3 separate regions of the Homo sapiens genome follow, and regions 2 and 3 are each linked to region 1. The links come from fine-mapping of genetic effects on gene expression. A gene starts in region 1. Each other region holds a variant in brackets. All regions are shown on one strand. Distances are between the middles of the regions. Region 1 holds the start of KIZ (kizuna centrosomal protein). Region 2 overlaps KIZ (kizuna centrosomal protein). Region 3 overlaps KIZ (kizuna centrosomal protein).

The links. PIP is the estimated chance that this variant, and not a neighbour inherited with it, causes the effect.
Region 2: its variant is the best candidate, but not a certain one, in a credible set for the expression of KIZ in whole blood (TOPMed, PIP 0.56).
Region 3: its variant is the best candidate, but not a certain one, in a credible set for the expression of KIZ in skeletal muscle (GTEx, PIP 0.60).

Annotation. Positions count from the first base shown.
Region 1 is chr20:21,124,886-21,127,648 of GRCh38, forward strand. It overlaps KIZ (kizuna centrosomal protein), which reads left to right and starts at 1,197. Exons shown (of 13, transcript NM_018474.6): 1 at 1,197-1,319. The coding sequence starts at 1,231. RefSeq lists enhancers at 666-765, 1,666-1,715 and a silencer at 926-1,505.
Region 2 is chr20:21,242,444-21,245,206 of GRCh38, forward strand. It overlaps KIZ (kizuna centrosomal protein), which reads left to right. Exons shown (of 13, transcript NM_018474.6): 12 at 1,802-1,845. Among named protein-coding and RNA genes, the nearest start is that of KIZ-AS1, 26 kb to the left of the region's middle. The variant G/A (reference allele first, on the strand shown) is at 1,257.
Region 3 is chr20:21,214,930-21,217,692 of GRCh38, forward strand. It overlaps KIZ (kizuna centrosomal protein), which reads left to right. Exons shown (of 13, transcript NM_018474.6): 9 at 654-719. The region is part of intron 1 of KIZ-AS1 (KIZ antisense RNA 1); the gene reads right to left. Among named protein-coding and RNA genes, the nearest start is that of KIZ-AS1, 2.0 kb to the right of the region's middle. The variant C/G (reference allele first, on the strand shown) is at 1,557.

The DNA of each region.
Region 1 (2,763 bases):
CCGTCTCTCCTTAAAATATAAAAAATACCAAAAAAAACAAAAATTATCTGGGTGTGGTAGCGCACACCTGTAATCCCAGTTATTCAGGAGGCTGAGGCACGAGAATCTTTTGAACCCGGGAGGCAGAGCTTGCAGTGAGCCGAGATCACGCCACTGCACTCCAGCCTGGGCAACAGAGTGAGACTCTGTCTCAAAAAAAAAAAAAAAAAAAAGGAAAGGAAGGCAGAGAAGCAGGCTAAGGCTTAATTTTTCTGCCCAGTGGGTTTTGAAATATGGTTGGCTTCCTTCAGGAAGCTTTTTCCCGACGTTGGTGATGATAATAAAACCTGATGCTTTCTATGTGCTGGGCCCACTTATAAACACTAACACATATTAACAATCGAATCCTAAACTAATCCTGTGTTAACAGCCTCCCACTTTACATATGAGGAAACCTGGGGTGACTTGCACACGGCTTGGCAGCTGGGACGTGGATAGGGAATGTACACCCAGGCAGTCTGGCTCCCGGGCTCCTGCTAGAGGATCCTACAGGACATTAGGAGCATTGTCCCTTAGAGCTGTCTGCACAAACGTCTGCTTCCCAAGCAACTAGTTATCAACTTTTCCCTCTCGCCAACGATACTGGCACCTGGAACAATCCTTAGATTCAGCACGGATTTTCGAGTAAGGGGTTGGTCCACTGTCGGGGCTGAGCACGGCTGTTTAGCATTTGAGGGTTTGTCTTTTTTTACTTGGTGTTTTGTGTCGCTTTTGAGTGCTGATATAATAGAACAAGCTTAGTACAGTGCCTGGCACTCAACAAATCCTGGCAAGAAAGGAGATCGAGGAAAAGAAGCAAGCGAGAGACGAAAGAAAGGGAGGGAATGCGCCTTGTAACATTAACGTAGCTTGTGCGAATCCTGGAAGGTGAGGGGAAAGGAGACACCGCGTCAAGGGAGAGAGGAGAGGGCACCGAGCGCCCGCCCCTCCGACGTGGTCCGCCCCGGCCTCACGACGCCCCGCCTCTGCCACGCCTCTTCCCCGCCCCATGCAGGTCTTCGTCCCGCCCCCCACAAAGCCGGCTTCCGCCCCGTCCCTCAGCGGCGCCCCGCCCCCACGGCGTCTTGCCCCGCCTCCTGCAGGCGGCCCGGCGCGGTGTTTACCCGCGGTGCATGGTGGGGCGGTCTCCTTCGGCAACCCCGGCCGAACGGCCACCCAGAGGCTGTGCTGAGCTGGCGCAGCGGCAGCAGCATGAGCCGGACCCTCGCATCGGCCGTGCCCCTGTCGAGTCCCGACTACTACGAGAGGCTGGGCCAACTCCAGCACGGGCTGCGGGACAGGTAAGGGCACTGGGGCGGGGGTGGGGAGTCGGCCCGCGCCGGGGGTCTTCCGCGTGCCCTGCCCCATTTTCCTTCCCGCTCCCCCGTCCGAGGTTCCCCGGGGCCCAGGCCCGCGCGCAACGCCCCCCAGGCTCCCAGTGGGGCCTGGAGGACAGTGTTTACTAGAGCCACCCCCTGTATTGGGGGTGGGAGCGGAGAGAGGTGAGAGACCGCCCCCGCCCCGTCAATAGCAGCTAAAGCCTGGTCTACGGTTTGAGGATGCGGCCGCGTCACAGAATTTGCCCAGAAGTGAAGGTGGGAGTTCTTCTGCCTGTCACTCTCCATCAAGCCTTGTGAGTTTCTCTTGTCCCCTTTTACACGCCCCCTCCCCACTCTCTTCAAATTGCCATCCCGCCGTGACAGCTGCACTGCATCAATGATGACAAGTCCTGGAACGCAGACGGTTGTGTGTGTGTGTGTCAAACATGTGCCCCCGTTTAAACTCAGGAGACTTTTAGGGGTAGCGAGGGCTGGCTAGATTTCCAGCGAAGGGATGAAATTTCCAGCTAGAGAAGTCCAGCTTCCAGAGGGTTCATGATGCCTTTGATTAAGATATGAAAGATGGGAACCACTGAAAACAGCTAGATCTAAGAGTGCATATAGAGAGAAAATTATACCGCAATGTACTATGAATAACCACGTAAAAGATAAATTGCTGGACCTCTTATTTAGCTGCTAAGTTAATTGGAGTTGTAACTCTCATTAGTTGACAAGAAAGGAAATACATTTTTGGATCTCTTGATAAACAAAACATTTAATGAGTGTTAAAAGTTACAAAATCATTCTAGTGAACAGGAGAGCTGTGTGCGTGACAGTGCTAAAATGATAACAATAATTACATGGAAAATAAAGGCAGAAGTGAGCGATTTTGAAAAGGAATTACATTTATCTTACGCTAGATTTAATTCTTGTCAGATATTTATAGAGCATCTACAACAGGCTTCCTTAATTGTCGTTAGCATTTTTTTTACCTTGTACTCCTTTTCTACGTCCTATTTTCTTTCTGACATGTCACCGCTCACCCATATCAGTGACCTCTTAATTTCTGACTTTAAAAAGAAATCTCTTCCTGTAGAGCCTTCCCTGTTTCAACCCATTCCCTAACTTTTGTGACTCTTGGCATTCTTACAGCACTCATAAATGGCATTCTTTTTGAACTATTAATTGTAAGTTATTTTTGTTTCCTGTGCTAGGAACACCTGGCTGTTTATAGTCCTTATGGCACAATAACTGTATAATAATTATGTACTTTATGATTAACACTTATTTAATTATTAAACAAGGTGAGGCTGTTGAAAATATATAAGGAATGTGAATCAAATTTTATAGCCTGTTCACGGTTCTGCATTTCGAGATTTGTTTTATTTTTAAGTCAGTACAAATCTGTTGCTGTGTGTGTTCATTT
Region 2 (2,763 bases), 120 kb after region 1:
CACCAGTTAGGAGGTTGTTGCAGAGAGAGAAGCAAGAGCTGATAGTTTTGTTGACCAGTGTACTGGCAGTGCCCAGGGAACTGGTGAGGACTGCAGGAAGTATTGCAGGGGGGTCGAGAGGGGTGGGGGTGGAATTGGCAGGACCGAGGGCCAGACTGGATGTGAAGGAAAGAGGAGTGGAGACTGGAGAGGGGCTTGGGGAGACTAGTGGGTCAGGGGTGCCATTTGCTGAGACGGGAGGAGCTGAGCTCACCTGCCACTGTGTCCTTTCTCCTGTGTCAGGGGCTCCCTGCTGCCCCACCCCGCCACACCTTGTTCCCCAGTCCTGTCCTGTGAAGGCCTCTGCCTTTGGAGGTGCCGGGCTTCCTCTGTGGTCCTGCAGCTCCCCCAATCACCTGCCACAGTGCTCTCCATCCACCCAGCTGGCAGAGATCTCTCCTGCTCCCCCTGTGGCTCTTCTTGTATGGACCGCGGCTGGCAAATTAGCCTCTTTCCACCCCTCCTAGCATTTTTATAATCCACCCTCCCCTGCAGCACCTAGCCCAGTGTCCTCAGGTAGGGGGAGGTGGGGAAATAATAGACATCCCTGCAGTTGCATTTAGTGTGTGTGTGATGTGTGTGTCACTTTCTGTAAAATGGGTTCTTGCAGGCTCACCTCACTGACAGGTCCCCACAATCCTGGCAGCTCCAGGACTGTCAGTCAGCTGCTGGCCTTTCCAGATGCTCGTAGGGGTCTTCCATGCTTCATGGAGAAATGGCTGTGAGCACTACTCAGTCATGGCAATTAAAGAAACAGGCACTAAATTTAAAGGGAACACTGAAAGGTAGCCTAGAAAATGATACCTTAGTGGAGCATGTTTTTCTGAAAAAAAAAAGTAAATTATAGCAAAACGTAGATTTTTAAGCCAAAAGTCAACCACACTTGGCCCAAAGGGAAGGAAAAGATATATTTGCAGGGTTTCCTGTGTCCAGAAGAACAAGGCCCTGGCTGTGAGAAGGGCGGTGGTGGTGCGTGGGGTAGGGCAAAGTGTCGAGCCATGCACCAAGAATGGTTTCTCTCCCAACATCTCCTGTGACCATTCAGGCAATTCTGAAAGAATCTCAGCATCATAAAACATTCGAGTGACACTCCCTGAGGAGACTTTTAAATTCATTAAAATTGCAAAAGCTCCTGAAAAGGCACACAGAGAAATCATATCCCGTGGAGCCAGTTTTCTTGTCATATTGGCCTCAGTCGAGACGGTCCTGGACGCCAC[G/A]AACACTAGCATTTATGTGACACTTGCAGGGCCCTCTACCAGGTGTTTGTTTTGAACTCCTTTCTTAACTGTTAGTATTGCTGCCACTGGTTTGACTAAGTATTTTAACTTCCTTACCAACATCTTGAATTCCCTACTGCAAGTGTTTCATTTTTAGCTTGCCTGAAAGCACTGAAGTTTGATGCATCACTGTCTTCCAGAAGACTGTTGAGGGAAACCGGTCCCCTGCCTCAGGGGAACATGCGATCATCCTCCCCCAAGAACACGTGGCCCCACACAGGCACAGCTCAGCAGGGCGGGGTGGGCCATGCAGACCTGCCGAGGGGACACACGCAGGACGGGAGCAATGCTGTTGAGTAGCGACCCTCCCGACAAGGCCACGCTGCATCCCGATATTTTCCCTTTACTTTTAAACTCTGGGAAGTAAGTGTAAAGTTCTGGCCTCCAGTGAATCAAAGTGCTTCTTCTCTAATGCGTTCATTATGAAAATATTAGTCTCATTGTCTTTTCTTTTTCAGAACTTAGACTGTTTCTTTATTTTGCAGGCATGAAAACAAAAAGAAACCCGTGATCAATTTAAAATCTAATGGTGAGAGAGATAATCGGACACTAGATTTTCTTTTTCTGTTTTAACCAAAAAACTCTGTGACATGCATTTGTTGTTTGCACCCTCATGTGAGTCCTGAAGCGGGCATGCTCACAGGGACTGCCATTGCAGCTGTCCCTGGGGTGGAACCTGAGGGCTTCTGGAGGCTCAGTTCTTCACAGACAGGACCACACGGGTGCCATGGACCACAGGGGCAGAGCATTGTAATTTGCAAGTATGAATTTGCAGGGGATCCTGGCCTCCATGTCTAATTAATTATCAGCACCCTGTATTTTACCAATGAAATGTTTCTTGCCTCTCTCCTCATCCTCAGAAGCACCCATTGCTCATGACCGGACAGGCTCTTGGAGTAACTCTAACTGGTTTCCTCATACCCAGTTCCTCCCAGCTCCTGGGAACTCCCAGCTCCTCCACCTGGCCACCAGCCTCCAAACCCTGGCTTCCCCCGACCTTCCTGTGTAAGGACGGCCAATGCCTCCCCGTACCTTCAGGGTAGAGTCTGAGCTTTCTCCATTCCTGGGAGGCCCCAGCCCTGCTCTCCAGCTTATTCCTCCCAAGGTCGCCTCTTTGGGTCAAGCCACAGTCAGCTTTTTTCAGCTGTAGCACACCTATGCCTCTGTACCTTTGCCCATGTTGTTCCTTCTGTAGGGAGTTCCTTTTCCTTTTCCTCAGCCCAGTGAGCTCCTATTCATCCTTCAACACCCAACTCACGGGAAAAATCTAGCCCTCCTACCATAACACTGTGGCATATCCCCTGCCCAGCTTGGGCTCTCTCACCTCCTGTCTCCTTAAACCCCTTATACCTTAAATTAAAGGTATAATTTGATTAATAGTTTTACTGACAATAACAAAAATATTCGCTGTTTATTTAGCCCCAGTATGTCCCACTTTGCTAACCCA
Region 3 (2,763 bases), 90 kb after region 1:
AATAAAATAAGTATGAAGAAGTTACGAAATCTTAACAAAACTAATCGCTTGGCAGTAGATAATTTTGATCCCTCAAAGATGAAGATGATTCCATAAAGTACTGTGAAGTTTTTGATATCACCTAATAGAATTTTCTCATAATTGTAAACATTACTTTTAATTATAATAGAACCTTATCAGTGTCTAAACAGTTGATTAAGAATCAATGAATTTATGCTCCCCAAATTTAATAACCCATTTTGAGCACCCAGAAACTGTGATTATTTAAGCATTACTGCTAAGACATGCCATTTAACTGCTTTAATGGTTTTCCAAGACAGCTATGAATTCCTCAGGAATTGCTCGAGTTGATGTACATGTGCAGGATGTGAGACTCACTTATTTTATGTCCCACCTAAATTTGATAGATGTCAGGCCCAGTTATTTTGCGTGAAAGCAGCATAGTGGTACCTTAATTCAATTTTATTTTTAAATTTTTGTCTATGAGATACCTTAATTTTAGAATAGGTTTCCTTTTAGGAACAGTATTGTTTCAGACAAGAAATACATTAACCAAAAAAAAAAAAAGTGAACATAAAGGGAAGGACAAACACCCAAAGGATCTATTCCTTAACTTTGAAATACTTTTTTTTTATTATGCATTCAATTTTTAGAAGTTTCAAGTGGCTGTGGAGACAAGAGCAAGAAAGAAAATGTGGCTGCAGATATCCCAATCACAGGTAAAGCTATGGTTGCCTAAGAGTTTCAGACACAAGATTTAGCATTATTATATAAGCGGAACATTTTGGGTCAGTGGTTTGTGGACCCCACTAAGAGCACATGTATTCAGCTACTGCATGCTGGAGCAGGAGATTAATCCTAAGAGCAGAACATATATACTTATGTTAACATAAACTAAGGTGGAAAATCACCGTGTCTATTGAATTCTTCATCACCATGTTATATATTTACACCTGTAACATCCTCCATCATGTGCCCTTTCAGCACCTGCGTCTCTGTAAAAAGGTCCATCTCCCTGGGGAACACCCGGTCATTACACAGCAAACTATAGATGTTTCTGATTTTACTGTTTTCTTTCCTGTAGTAATTGCATATGTATATTAAAATAAGCAGATAATAAAAAAATGTCAGATAGGAAGCTTGCGTTTGCCTCAGTTACAAAGCCTGTCTGATAATTTAAAAATTGTACCAATCGGGCTTCATCAAGACCTATTAAGATTTCTGCACATGTATTAGGCTTGTTTAGGTGGAATCTGAACGATATCATTATTTTTTTCTTTTTAGAATAAGAACAGCAGCAATTAGTATTCTGTACAGAGTTCTACTTGTCATACATCTGAATTTACTAGTACCTTATTTTGTGAAGTGGTGTACTACTTCATTATAAATTCAAAGGTCTGACTTTAAATATTTACACAAGTAAATACACCATTGCACCAAGGTACTGAGGCATGCATCTGCATATGTGGTAGTTTTGTTGTTTATAAGCAGAAAAGAATGGCTTGCTTTTATGGCAGTGCAGTTCCTGGCATGATTAATTTTTTAAACTCATGTTT[C/G]TGTGATGAACTCTGGTTTTGAAAAAGCAGTTTATGGTAGAGCAGTTATTGTATATATTATGCATTCAGATAATATTTCACTCTAAAATGCAGAGTTTTTTTATTTTAAACATTTTCACCAATGATATGTTTATTGTGTTTTTAGTCTGCATTTTCTGCAAACTCTGGTATGGCTCCCTGCTATTTTTATTAATAGAAATGTAGATGATCCCAAACTACAGATAACCATGAAGTCATTTGGATACTTTTCTCTTGCATTTACTTTTGGATGCAGAAGTATCTAATGGCCTCTGAATTTATTTCAATTAAAATTACAAAGGATTATTGAGGAGAAACCAGGAAATGACCTTGTTCATTCATTCTTCTCTTTTCAGTATTCTTTACAATCATCCCTTGCTGGGAGTAGTTGACTCTCCCCAAAGTTAATGCAAATGTATTTTCTCATATACTTTCTTTATAAGAAAACGGATAATTAAGTACCAGGGTTTCAAATCCCTTCTCATGCAGAAGTGCAATATGGCTAGAAGCAACTTGGGCTGTTTGCCATTAAGATTTTAAAAGAAATTGTAATTCCAGCAACCTGCCATTGATCCATCAATAGTTGGCAGTTAAAAAAAATGCCTTGTGCCAGAATATTAGACATTAAAAAAAGTACTTTGGAAATTTTTTAAAAACTTAGCAAAGCCATACACATTGTTAAGGTGTTACTGTTCTGTCCTTGCCAGTGTACTATCCCCACCCAGGGACCTCCCATGAAATTCATGTTTGAGAGCTTCACGCACCTTGGCACTACTAATACTGTTGCTTTGTCCATCATTGCAGCTACTTTGATCTCTAAGTTCTTGACCATCATCCCTTTATTAAATGTTTGTGACTTTGGCATAACTATTTGGAGATTTCACTTTTGGTAGAGTAAAGCAAGTATGTAGTTTAATTTAAGACAGAGTCTGTCTGCCTCTTTATAATAGTTCTGTTGGGGTGTCCTGTTTGTGTGGGTGCATGCTGGTTGTGTTTGTGTGGGCTGCATTCCTTCTAGAATATTCCAAAGAAAATATTCCAGAGGCTGTCCCCTGAAGGTTGAGGAAATGTAGCAGTTGGGCTGGGGCTTTGCAACCAGCCATCAGTGTCAGCTCTTTTACTCCTTGCTCTGTTTCTCTACCCTCTCTGAGCCTCTGTATTGGGAAAGCAGACATACTGCCCAATAGGA